Homo sapiens: one gene and its partners. The protein of the gene in region 1 purifies or fractionates together with the protein of each later gene. This does not show direct contact. Each region holds a gene or a part of one and is shown on either strand. Other genes may lie near its edges.

What was found.
Region 2: the proteins of NEMP1 (region 1) and RANGAP1 purify together in Homo sapiens (co-immunoprecipitation; 3 studies listed by BioGRID and IntAct, with this or other methods). This does not show direct contact.
Region 3: the proteins of NEMP1 (region 1) and PIP4K2A purify together in Homo sapiens (affinity purification with mass spectrometry; 2 studies listed by BioGRID and IntAct, with this or other methods). This does not show direct contact.
Region 4: the proteins of NEMP1 (region 1) and ADCY9 purify together in Homo sapiens (co-immunoprecipitation; 3 studies listed by BioGRID and IntAct, with this or other methods). This does not show direct contact.

Annotation. Positions count from the first base shown.
Region 1 is NC_000012.12:57,061,771-57,068,795, reverse strand, and holds part of NEMP1 (nuclear envelope integral membrane protein 1 isoform a precursor), read left to right. Parts: intron 1-4,056; coding exon 4,057-4,150; intron 4,151-4,610; coding exon 4,611-4,725; intron 4,726-5,451; coding exon 5,452-5,677; intron 5,678-7,025. UniProt on the Homo sapiens protein: Together with EMD, contributes to nuclear envelope stiffness in germ cells. Required for female fertility. Essential for normal erythropoiesis. Required for efficient nuclear envelope opening and enucleation during the late stages of erythroblast maturation.
Region 2 is NC_000022.11:41,255,188-41,262,212, reverse strand, and holds part of RANGAP1 (ran GTPase-activating protein 1), read left to right. Parts: intron 1-632; coding exon 633-767; intron 768-4,106; coding exon 4,107-4,265; intron 4,266-5,388; coding exon 5,389-5,502; intron 5,503-5,922; coding exon 5,923-6,022; intron 6,023-6,107; coding exon 6,108-6,192; intron 6,193-7,025. UniProt on the Homo sapiens protein: GTPase activator for RAN. Converts cytoplasmic GTP-bound RAN to GDP-bound RAN, which is essential for RAN-mediated nuclear import and export. Mediates dissociation of cargo from nuclear export complexes containing XPO1, RAN and RANBP2 after nuclear export.
Region 3 is NC_000010.11:22,585,572-22,592,596, forward strand, and holds part of PIP4K2A (phosphatidylinositol 5-phosphate 4-kinase type-2 alpha), read right to left. Parts: intron 6,211-7,025; coding exon 6,058-6,210; intron 1-6,057. UniProt on the Homo sapiens protein: Catalyzes the phosphorylation of phosphatidylinositol 5-phosphate (PtdIns5P) on the fourth hydroxyl of the myo-inositol ring, to form phosphatidylinositol 4,5-bisphosphate (PtdIns(4,5)P2). Has both ATP- and GTP-dependent kinase activities.
Region 4 is NC_000016.10:4,113,418-4,120,486, reverse strand, and holds the start of ADCY9 (adenylate cyclase type 9), read left to right. Parts: upstream 1-4,044; 5' UTR 4,045-4,797; intron 4,798-5,001; 5' UTR 5,002-5,044; coding exon 5,045-6,737; intron 6,738-7,069. UniProt on the Homo sapiens protein: Adenylyl cyclase that catalyzes the formation of the signaling molecule cAMP in response to activation of G protein-coupled receptors.

The DNA of each region.
Region 1 (7,025 bases):
AGGAGATCGAGACCATCCTGGCTAACACGGTGAAACCCCATCTCTACTGAAAATGCAAAAAAATTAGCCAGGCGTGGTGGCGGGCGCCTGTAGTCCCAGCTACTTGTGAGGCTGAGGCAGGAGAATGGCGTGAACCCAGGAGGTGGAGCTTGCAGTGAGCCGAGATCGTGCCACTGTGCTCCAGCCTGGGCAACAGAGCAAGACTCCATCTCAAAAAAAAGGAAACAAATATCACAGCTCAGCCTGGGCAACATGGCAAAACCCTGTCTATACAAAAATTAGCTGGACGTGGTGGTATGTGCCTGTGATCCCAGTTACTCGAGAGGCTAAGGCACGAGAACCGCTTGAGCCTGGAGGCGGAGGTTGCGGTGAGCCAAGATCACACCACTGTACTTCAACCTGGGCCACAGAGGGAGACCCTGTTTAAAAAAAAAAAAAAAAATCAAGTGTTTATTCATTTTTTCCTTTAGGAACCTACTAGTTAAGACAGGTGAGACTGACATGTACAAATATGAAGAAAATATATAGGTAACTAAATAAACATTGAATGAAGGTAAAATCAACATTAAGTTTGTATACAAGTAAAAAGTATTTGTGGAGTAGTGAATGCAAGATTAACAATTGGAGTTTGAAGTTGGGCTGGAGTGGGGTTGCTGGAAGTTGTTATTTTGGTGATGCTGAGAGAAACAGGGAGGAATAACTGGTAGAAAAAATCTGGAATGGGGGGCTGGTTGTGGTGGCTCACCCCTGTAATCCTAGCACTTTGGGAGGCTGAAGGGGGAGGATAACTTGAGCCCAAGAGTTTGAGACCAGCCTAGGTAACATAGTGAGACCCTGCCTCTACAAAAAAATACAAAAATTAGCCAGGCATGGTTGTGCATGCCAGTAGTCCCAGCTACTTGGGAGTCTGAGGTAGGAGGATCACTTGAGCCCAGGAGGTTGAGGCTGCAGTGATCCGTGATTGCACCACTGCACTCCAGCCTGGGTGACAAAATAATAATATTCAGGTCGGGAGAGATGATGGGGATGTGAATAGGACATTACGTAAAGGCTGATTATTGGGAAATACATGAGGGAAGACCTTTAATCCTAATCTTCATAATCTGGCAGTAACTACATAGCATCAGTCTCTACAGTTCTCTGACCTCAAGTTTTGGGCAAATATAGTCACACATCACTTTATTGTACTTCACTTTTTTGTGGTTCACAGATAGTGCATTTCTTTCCAAATTGAAGGTTCGTGGCAACCCTGGGTCAAGCAAATCTATCACACCGTTTTCCCAACAGCATGTGCTCACTTGGGGTCTGTGTGTCACATTTTAGTAATTATAATATTTCAAACTTTTTCATATGATTATAACTGTTATGGTGATCCATAATCAGTGATCTTTGATGCTGCTGTTGCAATTATTTTGGGGCACCACATGTCCATGTAAGACAGTATATTAGTTCATTTTCTTTTTTTTTTTTTTGAGACAGAGTCTCGCTCTGTCGCCCAGGCTGGAGTGTAGTGACGCGATCTCGGCTCACTGCAAGCTCCACCTTCCGGGTTCATGCCATTCTCCTGCCTCAGCCTCCCGAGTAGCTGGGACTACAGGCACCTGCCACCACGTGCAGCTAATTTTTTGTATTTTTAGTAGAGACGGGTTTCACCGTGTTAGCCAGGATGGTCTCGATCTCCTGACCTCATGATCTGCCTGCCTCAGCCTCCCAAAGTGCTGGGATTACAGGCGTGAGCCACTGCGCCCAGCCTATTAGTTCATTTTCATACTGTTGATAAAGATACCCAAGACTGGATAATTTATAAAGAAAAAGAAGTTTAATGGACTCACAGTTCCTGGTGGCTGGGGAGGCCTCATAATCATGGCAGAATGCAAAAGGCACATCTTACATGGCAGCAGGCAAGAGAGAATGAGAACCAAGTGAAAGTGGAAACCCCTTATAAAACCATCAGATCTCATGAGACTTATTCACTACCATGAGAACAGTATGAGGGCAACTGCCCCCATGATTCAATTATCTCCCACCAGTTCCCTCCTACAACACGTGGGAATGATGGGAGCTACAATTCAAGATGAGATTTGGGTGGGGACACAGCCAAACCATATTAGACAGTGAACTTCATCGATAAATGTCATGGGTGTTCTAACAACTCAACCAATTGGTTATTCCCGTCTCCCTTCTTCTTGGGCCTCCCTATTCCCTGAGAAACAGCAATATTGAAACTAGGCCAATTAATAACCCTAGAGTAGATTGTGAGTCTTCAACTGAAAGGAAGAGTCATACATCTCTCTGATTATGCTTAGTGAGAACAGCAAAAGCCAAGACAGACCGAAAGCTAGACCTCTTGTCCTGAGCAGTTAGCCAAGTTGTGAGTGCAAAGGGAAAGTTCTTGAAGGAAATTAAAAGTGCTACTCCAGGGAACACACAAGTGATAAGAAAGTGAAACAGCCTTATTGCTGATATGGAGAGAGTTTTAGTTGGCTGTTGAGAAGATTAAACCAGATACAACTCTTTTTTTGTTTGTTTGTTTGTTTTTTTGAGACAGAGTCTTGCTCTCTTGCCCAGGCTGGAGTGCAGTGGCGTGATCTCGGCTCACTGCAAGCTCCGCCTCCCAGGTTCATGCCATTCTCCTGCCTCAGCCTCCCTAGTAGCTGGGACTATAGGCGCCTGCCACCACACCCAGCTAATTTTTTTGTATTTTTAGTAGAGACAGGGTTTCACCGTGTTAACCAGGATGGTCTCGATCTCCGGACCTCGTGATCCTCCCATCTCAGCCTCCCAAAGTGCTGGGATTACAGGCTTGAGCCACCATGCCCGGCCAGATACAACTTTTTTAAAGCTAAAGGCTGATCCAGAGCAAGACCCTAACTGTCTTCAATTCTGTGAAGGGTGAGAGGTGAGGAAGCCTCAGAAGAAAAGTTTACAGCTAGTGAAGGTTCTTGGTTCATGAGATTTAAGGAAAGAAGCTGTCTTATTACATAAGTGCAAGGTAGGCTAGGCGTGGTGGCTCAGGCCTGTAGTCCCAGCACTTTGGGAGGCTGAGGCGGGCAGATCACTTGAGCCCAGGGAGTTCGAGACCAGCCTGAGCAACATGGTGAAACCCTGCCTTTACAAAAAATACAAAAAAGTCATGGTACCAGCTACTCGGGAGGCTGAGGTGGGAGAATCACCTGGGCCCAGTAGATCAAGGCTGCAGTGAGCCATGATGACGCCATCGCACCCCAGCTTGGGCAACAGAGTGAGACTTTGTCTCAAAAAAAAAAAAAAAAAAGATGAACCAAGCACTGATATAGAAGCTGTAGCAAGTTATTCAGAAGATCTAGCTAACATCATTGTTGAAAGTGGCTACAATTAAAGAGCTCCTCAGTGTAGACAAAATAGCCTTATACTAGAAGAAGATGCCATTGAGGACTTTGATAGCGAGAGAGAAGTCAGTGCCTAGCTTCAAAGGAGGGGTGATCCTCTTGTTAAGGGTTAATGCTGTTGGAGGATTGACTCCAGTTTTGAAAGAAGTTGTGGTAAAATGCTATCAGACAGTATTGCATGCTTTAGAGAAATCTTCATTGAAAGGATGAGTCAATGCAGCAAACTTCATTATATTTTAAGAAATTGCCACAGCCACTCCAGCCTTCAGAAACCACTGCCTTCATCAGTCAACAGCCATCAACATGGAAGTGAGACCCTCCACCAGCAAAAAAAATGATGACTCACTGAAGGCGTAGATGATCTTTAGCAGGTTTTAGCAAAGTATTTTTAATTAAGGAATATATATTTTTAAGACATAATGCTGTTGTACACTTAATATACTATAATATAGTGTAAACAATTTTTATATGCAGTGGGAAACCAAAAAATTTGTGTGACTTACTTACTGCAATTGCAATATTTGGTTTATTGCAGTGGTCTGGAACCAAATTTGAAATGTCTCTGATGCTTGTACTGCTCTAATCTTGTACCTTTTAAAATCTTTCGGCTGGGTTAGTTGTCCTAGTTTCAACAGTGCTATGTATGAAATATATACATATGGTCATGAAATACATTTTTTTCCTGCAGAAGTCAAATTTTCTACTACTCTACTGGGATGACTGTGGGAATTGTGGCCTCTCTGCTAATCATCATTTTTATACTATCTAAGTTTATGCCTAAGGTAAGTATCAGAATCTTCATGTGCAGCTAGAATGAATTTGGATAGCTGAAGGACTGTTTTCCTGGGTAATCTTAGAAAACTGAAAATGTGTATTGATGGCTGATGAGTCAATATCCTACTCTCCTTGATTCAGAAAGGTACTTTCCACGATGAAACTTGGAGCCTGATTACAAATTCTTTCTTTTTATATAAAATCCTGTGCTCAGAGGGGGATTAAAGTCTGCTTCCTGTTTTTTAATTATATAGCCAGGCTTTTAAGTTATTTAGCATTTCATCTTCCCAGTGTTCGTTGCAGACTGTACCATTTTAAGTATAAAGGACATCTTTTTAAGAGAAGTGTTTTTTGTGCATTTTGAGTAGGTTGAATTTTTTAAAAAAAAAATCATAGTTCCATTTTGCTTCTTTTATGTATGGAAAGCCTGTTGTAACTTTTTGCTTTCACTTCTACTCTCTGTCTTAGAAAAGTCCCATTTACGTCATCCTGGTGGGAGGCTGGTCTTTTTCTCTGTACCTCATTCAACTAGTTTTTAAAAATTTACAAGAGATCTGGAGGTGTTACTGGCAGTATCTTTTAAGTAAGTGTTGTCGGTTTTGCTTTCCTTTTGTACGTTTATAGGCTGTTTCAGTTAATTTGATCATGAAAAGATTTTGCCTGCTTATGGGATTTAATAGTTCATGTCATTTTTTTAAACTTTTAAAAATCATAGTTTTTCACTTATTTCTAATCCCTCTACAATTATCACCTTCTCTTAAATTAGAATGGTGCTGTTAAGGCGAAGATGTTCATTTATTGGTATTTATAAATATACCTTTCTTTACACAATAAACATCTTTCTGAAAAGCTGTAAGTTGACTTTATTAATGGAATCATATTTTAAATATACTTGGGGACCTTAAGTAAAAGACTCCGCAGTTAATTTTTTTCTCCTTCATTTCTGAATGAACTGCTGTAGATTTTATTTACAAAGTAAAAATCCTTGGTCATATAGATAGTAACCTTTGAGTTATCCTTTGAAGGGTGATTAATCTGGATTTCTGTATATTGGTTTTTTAAAATAGTCTATTTCAGGGTTGTTCAACATGTACCTTTAATGTTCTGTTTGAACCAAATAAATTTGGGACAGCAGAAAGGATAGAAACTTAGAGAAATATATTCTAAGAAAAAAGTGTGAAAAATTAAGTAAAAATCTGATTTCCTAGTTCAATTGGTGCTATATAGTAAATTAACTACTGCTTCCCACACAAATTATTTTTACCAAGTATAGATGAAAAAGAATGTCTTCTGATAACTCTTCTCATAGGTTATGTCCTCACAGTTGGATTCATGAGTTTTGCAGTATGTTACAAGTATGGGCCCTTGGAGAATGAACGAAGTATCAACCTGCTGACCTGGACCTTGCAGCTGATGGGCCTGTGTTTCATGTATTCTGGCATCCAGATACCACATATTGCCCTTGCCATTATCATCATTGCTCTTTGTACTAAGAACCTGGAACACCCTATTCAGTGGCTGTACATCACCTGCAGGTGACTGAAAGGCAATGTAACTTAATATTGACAGGTACATTGTGGGATGCAGTTGCAGCAAGAGGATACAGAGGTGTTGACCTGGGAGCTTCTTTGTTAATGAAAAGTCATTGTATTGTACTTCCACTTTTGTTCCTTCCCGAGTCTATTTTTTTTTTTTTACTTTCTATAGGAATTTTTATATTTTTATTCTAGTCATTTTATATAAAATGTCTAGTAAAATGTCATGTGTTCCTGTTACCACAAGGTGGTGCAAATTCTATCACTGTTTTTTTGAGATGGAGTCTCGCTCTGTCGCCCAGGCTGGAGTGCAGTGGCGTGATCTCGGCTCACTGCAACCTCCACCTCCCGGGTTCAAACGATTCTTCTGCCTCAGCCTCCTGAGTAGCTGGGATTACAGGCATGCGCCACCACATTCAGCTAATTTTTATATTTTTAGTAGGGTTCCCCATGTTGACCAGGCTGGTCTTGAACTCCTGACCTCAAATGTCAGGAGTTCATAAAGTGCTGAGGAGCTCCCAAAGTGCTTGGATTACAAAGTGCTGGGATTACAGACATGAGCCACTGCGCCCCGCCACAAATTGTATCGCTTTTATACCGTATGCTCATTGAGGTCTCCTGGGTTCAGATTTTTTTTTTGAGACAGAGTCTCTCTCTGTCACCCAGGCTGGAGCACAATGGCGTGATCTCGGCTCACTGCAGCCTCCACCTCCCGGGTTCAAGTGATTCTTCTGCCTCAGCCTCCCGAATAGTTGGGACTACGGGTGGGCGCCACTATGCCTGGCTAATTTTTGTATTTTTAATAGAGATGTGGTTTCACCATGTTGGCCAGGGTGGTCTCAAACTCCTGACCTCAGGTGATTTGCCCACCTCAGCCCCACAAAGTGCTAGGATTATAGGCGTGAGCCACCTCACCCAGCCCATTTCAGACTATTTCTCAGTGGCTTTCAGATTGCTCTGGAGGTCTTAGTCTTATTTTAAGATGTAATTCATAGCATGTTTTGTCACCTTGCATAATAAATATGGAATGTTACTAGGTCCTGAAGTTGTCTATTATAGATAGTCAAGGTGATGCTTTCAGTTTGGGAAACCAAGTTACTGGACCACAATCTTTTTTTTTTGAGATGGAGTCTTGCTCTGTCACCAGGCTGGAGTGCAGTGGTGCTATCTCAGCTCACCGCAACCTCTGCCTCCTGGGTTTAAGCGATTCTCCTGCCTCAGCCTCCTGAGTAGCTGGGGTTACAGGTACATGCCACCATGCCCAGCTAATTTTTGCATTTTTATAGTAGAGATGGCGTTTCACTATGTTGGCCAGGATAGTCTCAATCTTGACCTTGTGATCTGCCCA
Region 2 (7,025 bases), on another chromosome or scaffold:
GACAGGGCAAGCTGGGTGTTAGGTTTTTACCACCAGCAGGCAAGCTCCTGCTGTGCCTGGCCAGCTTTTAGGCACAGGCAGGTGTCAGACAGGTTCGTCTGGACCGTGGACTTGGCAGCTGGCTCCCTTGGACATTGTGGAACGTGGAAGAGAAGCTGGAAGATTTGGGCTTTGGTCCAGAGTCCACCACTTGTTTATTGACCATAAGAAAGTTTCCGTTCCTCTTACCCTGAGTTTCTTCAGCTGGAAAATGGGAGCCATGATTTTCCCACCTAGCAGAGGGCCTTAGACAGTGAAGTGAGCTGACTAGGAAGTCCTTCCCCTGGACCTGGCTAAAAGTTCATCCACTCCATGTGGTCTCTCCCTTTCCTGAGTAGGGCTTGGTCTCCCCGTCTCGAAAGTGAAGCTAAACCTCTCAGGCTGGTGTGACACAGCATTAGAGATAAAAACCTTGTGTAACTGAAGTGCTGGACATATTTAAGGTGTGACTGTTGAGCTGTTAGCAGTCCTGCGTCCCCTGACCTGCACCGATGGGTGGCGTGGGATGTTGAAGAGCAGTTCAGCAGCAGTGGCCACCCCGCTGGGAGAAGGGGCTCCTGCCCATGACCAGGGCCCCTTGCCTTTCCCCACAGATCCTGGCTGCAGCTCTGACCGAATGTCACCGGAAATCCAGTGCCCAAGGCAAGCCTCTGGCCCTGAAGGTCTTTGTGGCTGGCAGAAACCGTCTGGAGAATGATGGCGCCACTGCCTTGGCAGAAGCTTTTAGGGTGAGTGGTTTCTGTCCATCCTGCCCCTGCAGCCTTGAGGTGCACTCGGCATAGTAGGCTGACAGTTCTGGATGCTAATCCCAGGGCTGGCACTCAACCAAGAGACCTGGGGCGTCACGTGCCCTCTCCAAGCCTGTTAACCCATCCGAAAATGAGCCAGAATTCCTGTCGTGCATTTCTGGAAAGGTGTGTGACTTTCCGGAAAGGTGTGTGACTGGCTCCCACTGGTGAGCCAGCCCCTATGGGGCTTCAGGCCAGGCAGGCCACTCTGACCAAGGAGTGTCATCTGCCAGGCTCAGAAGTGGTGAAGTGAGATGGTGCGAGTGCTGACAGTAGCCTGGCCCAGCCACTGGTGTGGGGCACAGAGAAGGAACATACCAGACCTCCAAGACAGGGAGATAGGCAGGGGCAGCCGCAGGGCTCAGGTGCCAAATGACGTGCTCTCAGGTGACCTTATCCCCACTCCTCTTCCACTCTCCTCTCCCCATCCCCGCAGGACATTGCTGAGTCCCCGATCGTGAGTGCCAGCAGAAGGCTACACTTGCCCCTAACAGGACTGAAAACTTTGGGGTCTGTCTCCCTCCTCTCTTTCCTGTTTTTTTTGAGGCAGAGTCTCATTCTGTCACCCATGCTGGAGTGCAGTGCGTGATCTTGGCTCACTGCAGTCTCCGCCTCCCAGGTTCAAGCAGTTCTGCCTCAGCCTCCCGAGTAGCTGGAATTACGGGCACCCGCCACCACACCCGGCTAATTTTTGTATTTTTATTAGAGACGGGGTTTTACCATGTTGGCCAGGTGGTCTCGAACTCCTGACCTCAAGTGATCTGCCCGCCTGGGCCTCCCAAAGTGCTGGGATTACAGGCGTGAGCCACCACGTCCGGCCCCTCTTCTCTTAATTTAAATGTTTTCTTCAGCAAACAGTATCCTAGGAGCATTGCTCATACGGGCCGGAATGTCCTGGCTGCCCATCGAGGCTGTCTGTAGATACCCTTTGCCTGCTTCAGTGCCAAGTGAACATCGCAGAGATCTGCCTTGTGTCTCCCTGCACCCCTGGCTGCAGGGGAGCTCCTGCTGCCTCCTCTGGAGCTGGTGGGGGCCTCACTGCCATCCTTGGATCCCTCCCTGCCGTCAGCCTGCTGTCCTCAGTGCACTGGGAGGAGGGGGTGCGCTGTGGTTGTGTTGAGCCTTCATAGGTGTCCTCTGGTGGGCTTAGAATGGGGGTTCTTAATCCCCCCCAGTATGTGGATAGAATTCAGGGGTCTGTGAACATGGATGAGGAAAAAATAACATTATTATTTATTACTAATGTAGCTAAAATATGTAGTGTGACCTTTGATTATAAATGTAGACAATAAACCTCACAGCATTAGAAAGGCCTGTGACTACCCACATAACAAACAAGCACATGTAGTCCCTGAACCCAAAAAAAAAAAAAATTTTATTGAGGCAGGGTCTCGCTCTGTTGCCCAGGCTGGAGTACAACGGTGCAATCTCAGCCCACTGCAGTTGAAGCTTCCCAGGCTCAAGTGATCCTCCCACCTCAGCCTCCCGATTAGCTGGGACTACAGGTGTGCACCACCATGCCCACCCAGTTAATTTTTGTATTTTAGTAGAGATGGGGTTTCACCATGTTAGCCAGGCTGGTCTCAAACTCCTGACCTCAGGTAATCCACTCGCCTTGGCCTCCTAAAGTGCTGGGATTATAGGCATAAGCCACTGCGCCCAGCTTAAAATTTTTAAAAAAATAAAAAGAAAATCTTGTGACTTTATCCCCAGTGGAAATCACAGGTATTTCATATGAAGTTATAGTTACTGCTGATATATAGAAATATTTCTCACTACATCAAAATTACAGTAATAGTGGACCCACCCCTAGATCTTGTTATTTGGTGCATTAACAAGAAGTTTGTATATCACTACAGCATGCGTTTGGAGTTTTTTCCTAAATGTTTTGATAACTGTTCCAACTGAGTTGATTTCCTTTGTAATTCTGTGTAATTTATCTTAAAATTTTAAAAAAACATTTTTTGAGGAGGGGACCCAGGGGCTTCACCAGACTGCCTGAAGGGTTCATGGCACAGAAAATACTAAGAAGGCCTGACCTGGAGTGTGCCCAGGTTGGCCTTCCTGTATTTATTTGTGGACCACCCGCTCCCCCCATTGCCCTGTGCTGCACTGAGCACCTGAAGACAGCAGAAGATTCCTTGGCACAGTTAAGCCAGGCCAACCCTCAGTCCTGGGTCACAGTGGAGACTGGGACATGGCCCTCTCCTCCAAAGCTCAGGGGCCGATGGGATGCAGACGGAATATAGGCTTTGAATGTAGGCAGGATGAGGACCACCGTGATAGAGGAGGGACCAGGTGCTCCGGGAGCACAGAGGAACGCACACTGGATCGTGGCTGGGGGAATCCAGGAAGCCTTCCTGGGAGAGGAGGTGACCAAAACAAGAGCCCTAGAACTCATATGAGTTAGCCTGTCAAGAAAATGCTGAATGGCTGGGTGTGGTATCTCACGTCTGTAATCCCAGCACTTTGAGAGGCCGAGGAAGCTGGATCGCCTGAGGTCAGGAGTTCAAGACCAGCCTGGCCAACATGGTGAAACCTCCATCTCTACTAAAAATACAAAATTAGTCGGGTGTGGTGGCGCACGCCTGTAATCTCAGCTACTCAGGAGGCTGAGGCAGGAGAATCACTTGAACCTGGGAGGCAGAGGTTGCGATGAGCCAAGATCATGCCATCACACTCCAGCCTGGGCGACGGAACGAGACTCCGTCTCAAAAAAGGAAAAAAAAAGAAAAAAGAAAAAGAAAATAAGGAGGCAGAGAGAATGGGTATCAAAAGGCCAGGCTGTGATAGGGCTGCATGGGCCAGGGAACACCCTCCTCATCCCTAGAGAAGGACGCCATGTCGAAGGGGTTATGTTGTGTAGGTGGGTGGGCTAGGAGGGCCCCTAAGAAAGAAAGGTCACATGGAGCTATGTCATCCAGAGAAGGGGCATGAGTGCCTGCCCACCACAGCCAGGGTCCCCACTGTGCTGAGGACACCAGACTGAGAACAAGAAATCGACCTGCTGGATCTAGAGCTCTGTGACCCTGGGCAAGTCACTTCGCCTCTTTGATCCCTAGTCTTTTCTCTGGTGGGGATCCTATCCCAGGCAGTAGGCCTCCCTCAGGAGGTTGTGGAAAGAGTTAGATGCAGCCATGCCCCAAAATCCCACAGACAGGCCCCTGCCCTGTGCTGGCGGCAGCCCATTCCTGTGCCTGCTGTGTGGAATTGCTCTCCTGCCTGCTGGATGTCACCTGGCACTCGGGGCCCCCTCCACTCTCTGCCTCCTCTTCACAGGTCATCGGGACCCTGGAGGAGGTCCACATGCCACAGAATGGGATCAACCACCCTGGCATCACTGCCCTGGCCCAGGCTTTCGCTGTCAACCCCCTGCTGCGGGTCATCAACCTGAATGACAACACCTTCACTGAGAAGGGCGCCGTGGCCATGGCCGAGGTGAGGCGAGTGTGGCAGAGCCAGTTGGGCCCCGCCAGATAGAGGCTGGCTGCTGTCTTTCCAGGGAAGCTGGGGCTCCGTTTAGCAGGGACTCCTCTACCCCCTGCCTGCCCCCTGGGTGTGTGCCCCATGGCTCCAGCTCTTTGAACATGTCCTGAACAGGGTTGCAGGTCCCAAGGTAACCCACGCCCTCCTCGGGCAGCTCTGATTCTTCATGCCACCTTCTCCTGAGCCGCCTCTGCAGCCCCCAGCGGCTGCCGCTGGTTTGTTCTCAGGCTGCACAGGAGCAGACTGCTCCCCACATCTGTTTTCCTGGTTGATTTGTTCAGCAGCTGTTGTTTGTTTTGTTATTTATTATCACTTTTTGAGACGGAATCTTACTGTTGCCCAAGCTGGTCTTGAACTTCTGGGATCAAGTGATCCTCCCACCTCAGCCTTCTGAGTAGCTGGGATTACAGGTGCAGGCCACTGTGCCTGGCCCAGCAGCTGTTTTTTGAGTCCCCATTTAGTGCTTGGCTTTGTACCAAGTGCAGGCCACATGGGGTTGAGCCAAAGACCCCGCCTTCAGGGAGACCCTAGCTCAAGGAGGGAAGGAAGCTGCCAGTGGTAACAGTGCTGGGCTCTGAACGCAGTGGCTTCTTGGCTGCCAGGGTCCCGTGGCCCCACAGAAGGCTAGTCCGGCTGCCTGTGTGTTAGCAGAGATGTGTGCAGGTGTTGGGGAACACGCCAGAAGGAAGTTCAAATCAGACTTAGGGCAGGCTTCCTGGAAGAGATCACATTTTGGCTAAGTTGTATAGGGCAAGTGGTCTTTCTCTGGACAGAGGGTGGGGGATGGGTGTTTCAGGCAGAGGGATCAGCTTACGTGTGGAAGACCCGGATGCTCAGCAGGAACCTTGCTTGGTTGGTCTCAGGAAGAGTTCTGGCCGTAACATGGGGAGGGGTGGAGGAGGTTTGGCCAGGGGCCCAGAGGCCAACAAGTAGAAGACGGCAAAGCTGGTGACTTGCAGAGGAGGACAGTGTGTGGTGGCTGGCTTGGGATGTGACCGTGTGGGGCCCCCGGGGCTTGCTGAGGGCTGGGGTGTGGTCTGCACCCTCACTCTGGACCCTTGCTTCCCCCTCACAGACCTTGAAGACCTTGCGGCAGGTGGAGGTGATTAATTTTGGGGACTGCCTGGTGCGCTCCAAGGGTGCAGTTGCCATTGCAGATGCCATCCGCGGCGGCCTGCCCAAGCTAAAGGTGCCAGCCTGGACGCCTGACGTCCTCCCTCTGGGGTCTGTGGGTGGTGGGGCGGCTGGGGGCACAGGGGTCTGGTCTGAAGGCAGGTGGGCCTGTGTCCATATCCCAGCTCCTCCACTTCGGGCCCTGTGATGCTGTGTGAGCCTCCACACCCCTCTGAGCCATGGTTTCTTCATTTCTAAAGCGGGAGGCAGGGAGTGGTGTACATCACTGTCTTGTGATTTAAGTAAACACAGTACGTGACTCATCGTTGGCTGCAGGGCATTATTTTTGTTGTTGGTGTTATTCTTCCTGCCCACTTTGCCCCACCTGGAGGACAGAGCCTGCCATATCCTCACTTGGGGAAACTGAGGCTTAGAGTAGAACCTGGTGTCCTGGCCCGGGTTTCTGCCTGCCTCCAACCCTTCCTCTTATTTTCAGGAGCTGAACTTGTCATTCTGTGAAATCAAGAGGGATGCTGCCCTGGCTGTTGCTGAGGCCATGGCAGACAAAGCTGAGCTGGAGAAGCTGGACCTGAATGGTAGTCGGATGGGGGAGGCCTCTGCACAGGTCTGCTAGGCTGGCCCTGGCACCCCGGCTGACTGCTCTTCCCTCCCCTTGAGCAGGCAACACCCTGGGAGAAGAAGGCTGTGAACAGCTTCAGGAGGTGCTGGAGGGCTTCAACATGGCCAAGGTGCTGGCGTCCCTCAGGTAGGGAACTCGGGGTGGCCCCAGAGGTCGGGGTCAGGCCATTCCTTTCTTTCTTTCTTTTGTTCTTGAGATGGAGTCTTGCTCTGTTCCCCAGGCTAAAGTACAGTGGCGTGATCTCGGCTCACTGCAGCTTCCACCTCCTGGGTTCAAGTGATTCCCCTGCCTCAGCCTCCCAAGTAGCTGGGATTACAGGCACCCACCACCACACCTGGCCCCTTTATTTGTTTCTACTTGTATTTATTCAGAAACGTTGGGTGCACTCCTGTTACGTACTAGGTCATACACTAGGCATCAGGGCTATAAGGATGGGACAGTCAGGGCTTCTGTCTCGTGGGGTGGAGACAGAATGAGTTGTCCGTTCAACAGAGGAGCTCGTACGGGCTGAGCGGGGCCACCCTGTAGAGTGGTGGAGTTGGGGAGGCCTCTGAAGGGGTGAGGCCAGATCTCATCCTGATGTGGTGGGGCCTGGGGAGTGATGGGGGTGGGAGGTGGGGGCAGCCAGAAGGGGCTGCACTCGGGATTGTTCTTAAGACGCTGACTCTAGAAAGGAAGAGACCATGGGGCCTGGGGAGTCTACCTGGAGGTGAAGGTGGGTGGCCGGGGAGTGGCCATCTCCTGGATCCAAGTCCGGTTGGGCCATCAGCATCGGGCTCCCTGTGCCCCTCGCATCTCCAAGTCGGCCTCATTCGTGTGTCAGATACTCAGTCGTGTCTCCTCGGTGCTAGGCCCTGAGCTGAGGCTAGGAACTGGGGACTCCGAGGTGGGCTGAACCTCACAGGTCCCACTGTCCCTGGGAAATGGTCCAGCCTTCCTATGGGGCAAGGACACCCCTA
Region 3 (7,025 bases), on another chromosome or scaffold:
CAACTTCAGGGAAGTATGTTACCAACAGTGCCTCTCAATTTTTTTTTTTTTTTTTGAGACAGAATCTCACCCAGGCTGGAGTGCAGTGATGCCATCTTGGCTCCCTGCAACTTCTGCCTCCTGAGTTCAAGGGATTCTCATGCCTTAGCCTCCTGAGCAGCTGGGACTACAGGCATACACCCCCAGCTAATTTTTTGTAGTTTTAGTAGAGACCGGATTTCACTGTGTTGGCTAGGCTGGTCTTGAACTCCTGGCCTCAAGTGATCCGTCCACCTCGGCCTCCCAAAGCACTGGGGTTACAGGCATGAGCCACTGTGTCCAGTCAATACTTTTCAATTTTAATTCAAGTTGAAGCTACATGATACCAAAGCTCCCAATGAATTCACGTCAGTGCGGGGAAAAAAAAAATTCAGTCGATTTAAGATAAAAAGATATTCAAGTAGGCAAATAGGTTTTTTACCATTTTTTCCTTTTTGAATGTTCTAACATTGTTTAGTTAATCAACTGATAATCATCATTTATAGGATCCGAGTTTCTTACAGCCTAACAGAAATGTGAAAAGGATATTTATAGCGAAACATTATTTTCCCAACTACAAGAGAAAATCAAATGAAGTAAACAAAATTTATGAAAGTTTGCTGTGCTTAATATGAATTCTCCATTGGTCTGAGAGATGATGCTCTTCTTTCTTTGCACAGAGTGAAAGCTAGGGTAGAATTTGGGCAGGAAATAAAGAATAGAGCAAGATACTGGAACTTGGGGGAAAAATCTAACTCCTCACGGCTGAAGTCTTCGTAATTCTGCATCAGTGCCACAGTCTACCAGAAACCAGGCCCCCTAGTGGATTAAAAGAGTTAAGGACTGAATGCCACATGAGAATGATTTCAACACTGAGGTGTAGGAAATTAAATACAAGAACGATATTTAATTAAAAATCTTATTCAGTCACTCATTTAGCACTTCTTTTTCTTTTTTTCGAAACGGAGTCTCGTTCTGTTACCCAGGCTGGAGTGCAGTGGCACAACCTCGGCTCACTGCAACCTCCACCTCCTGGGTTCAAGCGATTCTCATGCCTCAGCCTCCCGAGTAGCTGGGACTACAGGCACGTGCCATCATGCCTGGCTAATTTTTGTATTTTTAGTAGAGATGAGGTTTCACCATGTTGGTCAGGCTGGTCTTGAACCCCTGACCTCAGGTGATCCACCCACCTCGGCCTCCCAAAGTGCTGGGATTACAGACGTGAGCCACTGCGCCTGGCCCATTTAGCACTTCTTATATACTAGACACTGCTCTGAGCATGTTATAATATGAATTCACCTAATTAGCACAACACCCAAATGAAGAGGGTACTATTATCCAAATATTATAGACCAAGAGGTGTCAAAAGTATAAGTAAATTGCCCAAGGTCATGCCATTGGCCAGGGGCATGGCTGGGACCAGAAGGTGGCTGGCTGGCTCCAAGTCCTTGCTCTTGAACCACCTGCCATCCCAGATTGCTGGGAAGGTCAGTGTGTCAGAAAATTAAACCTAGGAAGAATTTATTCAAATATTCAAATAACTAGCCATGTTCTACTTCTCCAGAGGCTGGCCTTGGGCAATTTTAACCCTCCAGAATATAATTCCAACTGTGGCTGCATTTCCTTAAAACAAAAAACAACAAAGGAAAAGAAAAAAAAAAGGGCTGTTGGGTAACCAAAGTTGTCAGAAAGTCCATGCAATTCACTCCACGGGAGAAACCCTCTATGAGAGCCTCTCATCAACTGATATGCACCTGAACGATCTGCATTACTTGTCTAGATTCGGAAGGTTCAGAAGCCCAGAGAGTTCCAAGGCAAAAGCAACAACAAGCAAGAAGAAACAGAAGAAATGATGATCACTACTGAAGCTAGAGAGAGAAAGTTTCTTAGATACAAACCCTAAAAGTACTCTAGGCCCACAGAAAGTAGGAATGAAGGCCTGACATATACCTCAAATACCTCTGAGCATCTCAAACCACAGGGATAGAAACACAAAGCTTGACAGGCCTCCCTGGGTTTACCAATGACAGGCCTGTGTCCGGTCACACAGAATCACATGAGGACATGCCAGGCTGAGCCCACCACCCAGTAATATTCATCAAAATCTCGTCTGGAAGTGGCATACAAGAAGAACAGCCTGAAGAACATTCAAACAGAAGCCAGAATGGGAGAGGGCTAGGCAGCCGGTGTGCATTATAGCCTTTCTCTGTAGAACAGCATTTACTAAATGTAAACTACACACTGGTGTGGCCTTTGCTAATTGCTGCGGGTGTGATGTTTGACTCGGCGGACTGCATCTTCCTTCATGAACACCTGCCAACCTGAGCAGGGTCCCAGACCTGCCCTCAGTGAGCCTAGCAGGGGTCACCCCGAATAGATCAGTATCAAATAAGCTGTGTGAATGTTGAGACCTTTTATGAGGTTTCTGTGGAATTCTCTGATCATGTAATTAACACTGTTACTCTTCACTGCTGCTGTATTTTTAAAAACCTCTTCTATGTGAGATTTTGCTGAGATGTATATGAGTGGCATGTCCACCTTTAATGGTCAACGTTTGTGTCACCTATACATTTCCTTGTTCTTAATTTGCTTTCGTTTAAATGTAATTTAAAAATGGACAAATTAGCAAAACGGTGCTGCAACTGTGGCTGTATTTATACATGGCCTATACTGATAATTAGCAGCCTATACGGACAATTTTTTTTTAAGTTCTCTAACATTCTTGTATGTTTCTCAGCTTGTGGCAAGGATGTTGTTTTATCAGGTCAGATGTCCCTGTGTCCGCTCTGTGGGGAACTCCTTAGAGTCAACCCTGTTGCATCTTAGTACCAAGACCACTTACATTTCTCCTTGGCAACAGACTCAAAGTATCAAGCATGCTGGTCATCTTGGCATGAATATCTACGCTCATTCCAGGCTCCATTTTGTGCCTTTATCTTTCTGCCTCTTCCTTTTCTTTTTTTCATTTATTCTAGCTTGTATTTCCAACTTCTTTGAAGGCCACCTTAAATCCTTTCTGGAATAAGGTCAAGAGTGAATACATGAATAAATGAATGAATGAATGAAATGCAGGTGCAGAAGCTGAGTTCAGAGATCATCCAAGAGGCAGTTCCTAACAGGTTAGGATCTATGTCTCCTGACTTCTACTTAGTGCCCTTTAAATAATTTATATTAATAATGTGATTCCCAATCATTAAGACCCTACAAATTATATTTAAAATATTCTGTTTATAAAAAGAAAAAGTATAGATGTTGGATAAAGGAGACTTTTCTGAATAAAGAACTCACCAATAAGATAACAATTTTGTAGCAGTGGAACAGAAGGAAGTCTTTATACTGTTAAAGCCCCTGGGAGGTGTCAATAGACTTATTTTGATCCCACACTTATTTTATGTAACACTGGGGATATGTCAAATCCCTATGTTAGGTTACAATAACTAACCCAGAGAAAACATTTCAAATCGTGATTTTTGTAAAGTCAAAGGATGCTAAACTCAAAGTTGTCATCAAGAAGTTGGTACTTCAATTCTGTGTCACATTTTATTAGCATGGTATCATGGCCATTTTTTAGAACAATATGCTCTCATCAGTCATGAGATATCACTTCGCTTTGAATGTTCTGAGACAACTGAAAGAAAGTATAAAGAGAATGCATAAGTATGATATCAATTTCCAGAGGGGAAAAAATGAAAAAGTAGACAGTTTAAAAGGTGAAGAGTTCAAAGCTGCAACCTGTAATTCAATTCATTCAGATAACAGAGCCTCATGTCTTCCCCCTCACAGGTAGCATCCTGGCACTTTAAAATTTCCTGTAGAATAAGAGGCAGTAGCATAAGCAGTGTAGAACAAATTTCAAAAGGAATAGATATTATAAAAGATTTATTAGATATTAAATGAATTTAGAGGCTAATGATTTTAGAAAACAAACTAGAGGCAGTACCAAGTTTCAAGAAACAGAATATAGCTCAAAGATTTTTATAGACTTCACTGCAAGCAAAATGCAATTGATCATATTTGCAAAGATTGGAAGAATAAGCAACTGCCAAGAAAGAATCCATGATATTAGAGCATCATGCATGAACATAAAGTAATGCTTTTAAAGGGATGTTTAAACAGACATCTAGGAGCTCACAAGTCCAGGCCAGTGCTGCCTTCGAAGCAGATACTTAGTAAGTGTGATTGTTTATACTCGAGAATCCTTTTATTAATATATTCAGGACCTGCGGCACTTTATTTTGAATACCCATTGTGACAGCCAATTTTTACCTTTGGGGGATTGGGAGCTATTTAAGTTAAAAACACCGTGTGACTCTGCTATGAATGGAAAGTTTGTGTCCCCCAAAATGCTTACGTTGAAACCCTAATCCCCAAGTGATGGTATTAGGAGGTGGGACCTTTGAGAGCTAATTAGGTCATGAGCTTAGAGCCCTCATTATGTGATCAGTGCCCTTATTAGAAGTGACAGAAGAGTGCTTTTGATCCTATCCCACCCACCATGACCCTGCCAACACACGTGAGGCTACAGTGAGAAGCTGGCTGTCTGCAAACCAGGAAGAACCTGACCATACTGGCACCTTGATCTCAGACTTCAACCTCTAGAACTGTAAGAAATAGATTTCTGTCATTTAAGCTACCCAGTCTACGGTTTTTTATGACAGCTCAAGCTGACTAAGGTCCTAAAAGCAACAATGTGTGTATGTGTTTTAAACACCAGTTGTGAAGATGATTCCTGGGATGTTGCAACAGCAGACATGTTCATACCATATGACTACAATTTCTCCAAGTGACTTAGTTGTTACGTTATTTTTATACCATGGATGTTATCTTGATAATAGCGATGCTATGGCCACCACCACACATTGAGTATCTAGTGTGTGACAGACACTGTGCTAAGCACTTGACATGCAATTTCCTATTTAATCTTTAGAATCCATATTAGGTGTTATTATTATCCCGACTGTATAAACAAAGAAACTGTGGCTTCAAAATCCAGGCAGGGTGTGGAGGCTCACACCTGTAACCTTAGCACTTTGGGAGGCCAAGATGGGAGAACTGCTTGAGCCCAAGAGTTCAAGACCAGCCTGGGCAACATAGCAAAACTCCACCTCTATAAAAACACAACTTAAAAAAATTGGCCAGGCATGGTGGTGCATACCTGTGGTCCCAGCTACTTGGGAGGCTGGGGTGGGAGGACTGCTTGAGCCCAGGAGGTTGAGCATGCAGTGAGCTGTGATCACGCCACTGCACTTCAACCTGGCAACAGAGCAAGACCCTGTCTCTAAAAAACAACCAAGACCAGAAGTCACATGCTTAGTAAGCGACCTGGCTGGGATTTGAGCCCAGGATTGTCCAACGCTGGACTTCATGCTCTTATACTCCATGGTGAAGGAGGCCTCTCACAGCGCGGGCTGGGCCTTGGGAACATGTGCTCTACCAGAGAAGCTTGTGCTGGAATTTACTCCAGGAGAGACAGATTGCTGCTCCCAAGGATGGTCTACTTTACCTCCAGTGATTACAATGGAATTATGCTCGGGGATGAAAAGGGGGCAAGAAGCAGACCAACACCCACCTTCTAAAATCAGAGAGCTTGCTCCGTAGCAGATTGTGAATGGCGTGGGCCCTGCTGGGGCCAGGACAGAAGAACCAGTGACAGCAAAATAGGATTCGGAGGTGTAAATAGATACATACTCAGAGGTCAACACCTAATCTCTGGCACAGGCAAAAACTTCTGCAAAGTTGCCAAATCTTAAGCTGAATGATTTTAAAATCAGAGTAGTGATAACTGAAACTATTACACAAGAGTATTTAGGTTAAAAGTGTTATACAAATAATGAATGACCTTTATAGCACAAGCATGCCTAAAGGTTAACTGCCAGGAATCTGGCCACTGTAATTTTAGAACACAGGGTTAGAGGAGATGTTTATGTGAAATGTGTTCTTCTTGTTCTCTAACTATATATTTAAATCTCTGGCCTTGGTGAGAAATCGCTACGCATGTTAATCTTCTTGGAGTTTCAAATAAAGATCAAGAAAAATTACCTGGTGGTATTTCTTCAGGATGTTGTGCATTTCGGCCACGTCTTCACTGGTAATAGTCTTGATGATGTATCTTTTGTCGTAGGAAGTGTGAAAACGAGCTCCACTGCGGGCCTGGGAGTCGTTGGGGAGGGGTGCGCTCCTGGTCAGGGAATTCTTCCCGGGTGGGGTAAGAGGGGAAGGAAGGCGGGGGAAGATAACTAGTTAAAGGTGTGGCTTTCCGATTCCCAGATAATTTGTCATCATTGCAAGTTTTCAAAAACATTTGTGTGTGGGATAAATTGATAAGTAGGATGACAACATTTTTACATGCATCATAACTCACATTGCAAGCCTTTCAGATGAAATGAAAACAGCTTGAATTGTACTATGATTCTAATATCTTTAAAGCAGGCTAATGTCTAGAATTATAATCAAAGTAACTTTAATCACTTAGTTCTTTTCAGAGTTGGACAAGCTCTCAAAGTTTTCTTCTGAATAAAATTAGGTTCCAGTCATAAAAGAAAATTTTACAGTCACTGAGCATTTCCTTATATGACAGGTATCGTGCCAAGCATTTTGCACAGATTATTTCCCCCAATTCTGATAACATTCCCATGCAATGGTTACGATTGCTATCATCACTATTTTACAGATGAGGAGATGGGAATAAGAGAGGCTTAGTATCTGGGCAAAGGGCATATAGCTAATAAGGGAAGAGCTAGAATTCTGACTCCAGTGTGGCTGGCTCAGAATCCAAACTCTCAACTAGTAAACTACTCAACTAGTAAAGTACTTAACTTGCAGACTATGCTACCTGTGTGCCCCAGGAGGAGGAGGCAGGAGCCTGGGAGAGTGTCTTCTAAAACAGCTCCTCCTTAGGCGATTTGAATTTGGTCCATCCTCCACTCCCTACCACCATTTTTGAGAACTACTGATCTCCTGGAGGGTGGACAAGGACGGGCTCTGAGTAGGGGCTCTGCTGACATCAT
Region 4 (7,069 bases), on another chromosome or scaffold:
CCAAGATTGTGGTCCACCTGACAAATGAAATCACGTAGGCACTGCCGAGTCCTCAGGGGCCGGTGTGATGAGAATGGCTACAACTCAATCATTATGCAACTTATCTCAAAGCCTGTCATGGTTGCCACCCAGTCTGACCTCTGATATCCTGGAGCCAAGGTCCTCACCCATCATGTGAATTTGCATGTGAGGGAGGGTGAGGAGGAGACACTGAGGCAGGCAAGGCATTCTGCAAGCTTTTGCAGAGTTTTCATGGACACATTCTGATTCCCACTGTGTCCAGGTGGGAGTTCTGTACACATCACAGATGGAAAAAAGAAACTCTCTGTGGATTTGGCAGCACCCTGGATTGGATGTTTGAAGAAAGCTATTGCATCTGCCCCGTATCTTCTGTGAATCGGGTACCTTTATGCTTCTGGGAGGTCAAGAAGAACCCAGAACCCTCCAGTGACTTCCCTTTGGGTCTTGGCATTATGAGAAGATGGTTAACCTCCTTTATAGAACTCTCCTTCACATCCAATCCTTCAGAAAGCCTAATTGATCCCATCTTCTTAACCCAACCCCTCCCCTGGACATCGTTCCTAAGCCCCTTAAAGAAACAGATGGCGGCTGGGCACGGTGGCTCACGCCTGTAATCCCAGCACTTTTGGGAGGCCAAGGCATGTGAATCATGAGGTCAGGAGTTCGAGACCAGCCTGGCCAATATGGTGAAACCCTGTCTCTACTAAAAATACAAAAATCAGCTGGGCATGGTGGTAATCCCAGCTCCACTGGAGGCTGAGGTAGGAGAATTGCTTGAACCCCGGGAGGCAAAGGTTGCAGTGATCCGAGATCGCACCATTGCACTCTAGTCTGGGTGACAAAGCGAGACTCCGTCTCAAAAAAAAAAAAAAAGAAAAGAAAAGAAAAGATATGGATGGCATATCCTTGTACCTCCAGGGCCTGACACACAGTGCTGGCACCACAGCCCCAGTCCCCCGGGGTTGATGGCATGATTCACTCCCTGACCTGGAGACTGGGGAGGCTTGTCAGCTTATAGGTTTCCACAGCAGGCAATGTGGCCGAATTGCTTCCAGAGAAGTAGGGAGGTGAGTATGACCATTACTTGTGTCTAAAAATCCGACGTGACTAACTTACAAACACATAAGTTACCACAAATGATTTAGGGAGGAGGAAAGAAGTGCAGACAGGCAAGCTTTCAGATCGTTTCAGGAAACCAGGAAGCAGGGAGCACAGCGTTGCAGCCAGCAAGGGAAGACGGAAGCTGTGAGTCCTGGCTCTGAGGGCCTCCCATCCAGTTGGGCTGATGGATGAGACAGGTACAGTCTGTGCTGGGCCATCGTGAGGCTTGCAGAGGGTAGTGCCAGGGTCACACAAGGCGTCATGGCCTCAGAATTCTGAGACCTGGTTTTCCATCTGAACTCATCACCCTTAGTGGGAGACCTAGGGTGCGTTTCTCTTCAATCCTGGGTTTCACCTCTCTAAACAAGGGACAATAGTATCTACCTCAGAGGGTTGTGGCAATGACCAAATGTGTCACAGGTGAAAATGTCCAGTAGTTTCTGGCATTTATGACGTGTTCGGTCAATGTTAGTTCACTATTGTTATCCCATTTACTAAGCGAATGCATGTGACACACCATGCGTTTCTGAACCTCGTATGTGAGAGTGCCTGGCATAGAATTGATGTTCATTAAAGGTTTATTTTTTAAATTTTTAGATAAACTTATTTTGAAATAGTTTTAGACTTGAAGAGTTGCAGAAATACTAGCGAGTTTCCCTGTATCCTACATCCAGCTTCCCCTAATTTTTTTTCCCCCAAGATGGAGTCCTGCTCTGTTGCCCAGGCTGGAGTGCAGTGGCATGATCTCGGTTCACTGCAAACTCCGTCTCCTGGATTCAAGTGATTCTTGTGCCTCAGCCTCCTGAGTAGCTGGGATTACAGGCGCACACCACCATGCCCAACTAATTTCTGTATTTTTAGTAGAGACGGGGGTTTCACCATGCTGGCCAGGCTGGTCTTGAACTCCTAACCTCAGGTGGTCTGTCTGCCTCAGCCTCCCAAAGTGCTGGGATTACAGGTGTGAGCCACTGCACAGGGCCCAGCTTCCCCTAAAAATGTTAACGTCTTACCTAACCATAGTAAGAGGATCAGAACCAGGAAATTGCAGATCTTATGTGAATTTTGCCCGCTCTCCTGCTACTGTCCTTTCCTGTTCCATGTTCCCAACCAGCATCCCATGTTCCATTTAGTTGTTGTATCTATCCCCTTAGGGACGATTCCTAGATTGTGACAGTTTCTCAGTCTTTGTCTTTCAAGACCCAAAGTGTCCAAGGACACTTTTGATGGGTACTGGTTAATCACTTTGTAGAACAGGTCTCAATCTGGGTTTGTCTGGTGTTTTCTTGCGATTGGATTGAGATTACACACTTCTGCAGGAATACCACCACAATATGTTGCTTTTAGTTTTTTCCTCCTTTATTGTGGTAAAATACACTCAACATAACATTTACCATTTAAACCACTTTATTTTATTTTATTATTATTTTTTGAGATGGAGTTTCACTCTTGTTGCCCAGGCTGGAGTGTAATGGTGCGAACTCAGCTCACCACAACCTCCGCCTCCCGGGTTCAAGCAATTCTCCTGCCTCGGCCTCTCGAGTAGCTGGGATTACAGGCATGTGCCACCACGTCCGGCTAATTTTTGTATTTTTAGTAGAGATGGGGTTTCTCCGTGTTGGTCAGGCTGGTCTCGAACTCCCGACCTCAGGTGATCCGCCCACCTCGGCCTCCCAAAGTGCTGGGATTACAGGCGTGAGCCACCGCTCCCGGCCTAAACCACTTTAAAGTGTATGATTCAAGGGCAGTATGTAGATTCATCCTGTTGGATCATTTCTAGACTTTTTCATCATCCTAAAACGAAACCCCAAGCTGCTTATCTTCCTCCCCTAGCACCTGGCAACCTCCAATCTGTGTCGCCTCTACGGATTTGCCAATTCGAGACATTTCATCTGGATGGAATCATACGCTATGTGGCCTTTTTTGTTTGGCTTCTTTCACTAGCATAACGTTTCCCGGGTTCCTCCACACTGCAGCATGCATCGGTGCTCCATTCCTTTTTGTAGCCGAATAATATTCCATTGCATGGACAGATCACATTTTACTTTTATTTTCTAATTCAACAGTGAGACCTGGTGTGGGCCCCGGCGCTGGGCCTGGGAGGCGAGGGAGGGGATGGAAGAGAGCCCCGTGACTGGCAGGAGGCACTGTGGAGTGTGGGGAGAAGGGGTCGGGATCTGCATGCTAGAGAGAATAGGATTTTATTTACACGTGGCAATGTTTATGGAGGCCAATGCACAACTGCCATTATGGGACGCGGACTCCTTTGAAAGTCTCATTTGTGTAAAAGGAAAAGCAGTAGTTCATGAGGAGGGGGAGAAGGGCTCAAGGACAGCAAGGTAAACTACCCCTGGGGCGGGGGAACGTGGTCGTCGGTGGGCCCAGCTTTGGAGGCTAGGCCCGTGAAGGTCGCCCCGTGAGCAGGTCCAGGGCAGGCCGAGTGCCCCGGGGCCCGCATTCATTGCTTACAGAGCAAGGGGAGCCTCCCGGGAGGGAAATCCAACGGTTGGAAACTTCGATTTATCCCAAAGGCGTGCCGAGTGGGAAGGCAACATTTTGATTTCCCAAACGTTGCGGCCAGCGGCTTCTTCCACGGCAGGCGCCTTCAGGTCTCTCCGCAGGGTCGGGACCCCGGGCGGCGCGCGGCCTCTGGGACGCCGAGGGAGGGCGGGCCCACAGCGCCCGGAGCGCGGACAGCGGCCACAGCCCGCCGCCTAGAAGCGGCGCCGCCCGGGGCGGGGGGCGGAGCCGAGCGCGCGCCCCGCCCCGCCCCGCCCCGCCCCGCAGCCCCAGCCCAGCGCGCGCACCAAGGCGGGGCGGCGCGCGGCCCGTGCGCGTGTCCGGGGCCAGGAGGCGGTGGCGGCGAGCGCGGGCCGCGCGTGCGCGCTGCGGCTGGGCGAGGGGCGGCGCGGGCGCGCGTCTGTCAGTGACAGCGGGCGGGGCAGGGGCCGGAGATGGTGGCGGCGGCAGCTCTTCCGACATGAGGCAGCGGCCGCGGGGGACACGGCGGCGGGCGCGGCGGCGGCCGCATCTCTAGCTCGGGGAGGCGGCCCCCGGCGTGGGCGCGGGCGGGCGGGCGTCCCGGCCGGCGTCGCGGGAGCCCGGCTCTGCGGCAGCGTCTGCACCGCCGCCCGGCGAGGGGCCCGCGTCCGTGGTTCCACGCGCTCGGTCCCGGGACAGCTGCGGCCGCGGCGGGAGCGGCGGCGCACTCGGGGGGAAGCAGGCCCCACTAGACGGGCCGCGCCGACGGGCTCCGCGCACTCGCAGCCCGGGGCGCCCCCACCCCCAGCGCCCGCCGCCGCGGGCAGGGCCGGCCCGGAGCGCGGGGGGCGGCCGGGGAGCGCGAGCCGGGGGCGCCCGCCGAAGCTCGCTGCTCCGGGTCGGGGTCCGGGCCCGGGGCCGGCCGCGCGCCGCCTTTGACGCATCGGAGCGCGGCTCCTGCAGGATGGAGGGCTCCGCGCCGCCAGCGGAGTTGTTTGTGCGCAGGCGGCTCGCGGGGCTGGGAGCGCTCAAGGTCTGAACTTCCCTCCGGAGCCGCAGCTGGAGGAGGCGAGCGCGCGAGGAGGAGAAGCCGCGCGGCGCGGAGGCCACCCTCGGGGCGAGAGGCGCGGAAGGCGAGCGAGCAAAGCGGTCCCGGAGCCACGGCGGCCACGCGGCGGGGACCCCCGGGCGTTCTAGGTCCGTCCCGAGCGGTTCTCGTGCGCCTCGAAGGTGGGGGCGGTGGGGGCGGTGGGAGCACCGCTGAGCCGGGAACCACAGGAACAGATGGTGCCTGTCCAGGTCGCGTGCTGGAGCCGCCCCTTAGGACAGGAGCAGGTCCCGGGCCTCTAGGCGTGCATGCCTAGGTGGGAGCGCCGCTAACTCTCCCCGTTTTGCTGGCAGGTACTGGTGACCCCGGCCGGGGCAGGCCCCGGGACTCGACAACATGGCTTCCCCACCCCACCAGCAGCTGCTGCATCACCACAGCACCGAGGTGAGCTGCGACTCCAGCGGGGACAGCAACAGCGTGCGCGTCAAGATCAACCCCAAGCAGCTGTCCTCCAACAGCCACCCCAAGCACTGCAAATACAGCATCTCCTCTAGCTGCAGCAGCTCTGGGGACTCCGGGGGCGTCCCCCGGCGAGTGGGCGGCGGAGGCCGGCTGCGCAGGCAGAAGAAGCTGCCCCAGCTGTTCGAGAGGGCCTCCAGCCGCTGGTGGGACCCCAAGTTCGACTCGGTGAACCTGGAGGAGGCCTGCCTGGAGCGCTGCTTCCCGCAGACCCAGCGCCGGTTCCGGTATGCGCTCTTCTACATCGGCTTCGCCTGCCTTCTGTGGAGCATCTATTTTGCGGTCCACATGAGATCCAGACTGATCGTCATGGTCGCCCCCGCGCTGTGCTTCCTCCTGGTGTGTGTGGGCTTCTTTCTGTTTACCTTCACCAAGCTGTACGCCCGGCATTACGCGTGGACCTCGCTGGCTCTCACCCTGCTGGTGTTCGCCCTGACCCTGGCTGCGCAGTTCCAGGTCTTGACGCCTGTCTCAGGACGCGGCGACAGCTCCAACCTTACGGCCACAGCCCGGCCCACAGATACTTGCTTATCTCAAGTGGGGAGCTTCTCCATGTGCATCGAAGTGCTCTTTTTGCTCTATACCGTCATGCACTTACCTTTGTACCTGAGTTTGTGTCTGGGGGTGGCCTACTCTGTCCTTTTCGAGACCTTTGGCTACCATTTCCGGGATGAAGCCTGCTTCCCCTCGCCCGGAGCCGGGGCCCTGCACTGGGAGCTGCTGAGCAGGGGGCTGCTCCACGGCTGCATCCACGCCATCGGGGTCCACCTGTTCGTCATGTCCCAGGTGAGGTCCAGGAGCACCTTCCTCAAGGTGGGGCAATCCATTATGCACGGGAAGGACCTGGAAGTGGAAAAAGCCCTCAAAGAGAGGATGATTCATTCCGTGATGCCAAGAATCATAGCCGATGACTTAATGAAGCAGGGAGATGAGGAGAGTGAGAATTCTGTCAAGAGGCATGCCACCTCGAGCCCCAAGAACAGGAAGAAAAAGTCTTCCATCCAAAAAGCTCCTATAGCCTTCCGCCCTTTTAAGATGCAGCAGATCGAAGAAGTCAGTATTTTATTTGCAGATATCGTGGGCTTCACCAAGATGAGTGCCAACAAGTCTGCCCACGCCCTGGTGGGTCTCCTGAACGATCTGTTCGGTCGCTTCGACCGCCTGTGTGAGGAGACCAAGTGTGAGAAAATCAGCACCCTGGGAGACTGTTACTACTGCGTGGCGGGCTGTCCCGAGCCCCGGGCCGACCATGCCTACTGCTGCATCGAGATGGGCCTGGGCATGATCAAGGCCATCGAGCAGTTCTGCCAGGAGAAGAAGGAGATGGTGAACATGAGAGTCGGGGTGCACACGGGCACCGTCCTTTGCGGCATCCTGGGCATGAGGAGGTTTAAATTTGACGTGTGGTCCAACGATGTGAACCTGGCCAATCTCATGGAGCAGCTGGGAGTGGCCGGCAAAGTTCACATTTCTGAGGCCACCGCAAAATACTTAGATGACCGGTACGAAATGGAAGATGGGAAAGTTATTGAACGGCTGGGCCAGAGCGTGGTTGCTGACCAGTTGAAAGGTATGTGCACTGCTTTACCTCGGCATCCCCCCTCCCTGATCCTGATTGTATTAAATTAAAAAAAAAAGCTTCCAGCCTCAGTGTCTGCAGACAGCTCAGGTATCTCAGAATGCCTTACCATGGGGGGATCTCAGGGTCAGTGTGACTTTTCTTTCAGCGGGTCAAATATCACAGATCTGTTCACACTGCAGAAAGGGACGCTGTGCAGAGATGACCTAGACGCGACCTTTAGAAGGAAGGAGAACTTTGAACGTGCATAACCACTGGTTGGCTGAAATGTGGGGGCACGTCCGGTGAATGTAAGGGTATGGAGCCCTTCAGCATTCAGCACT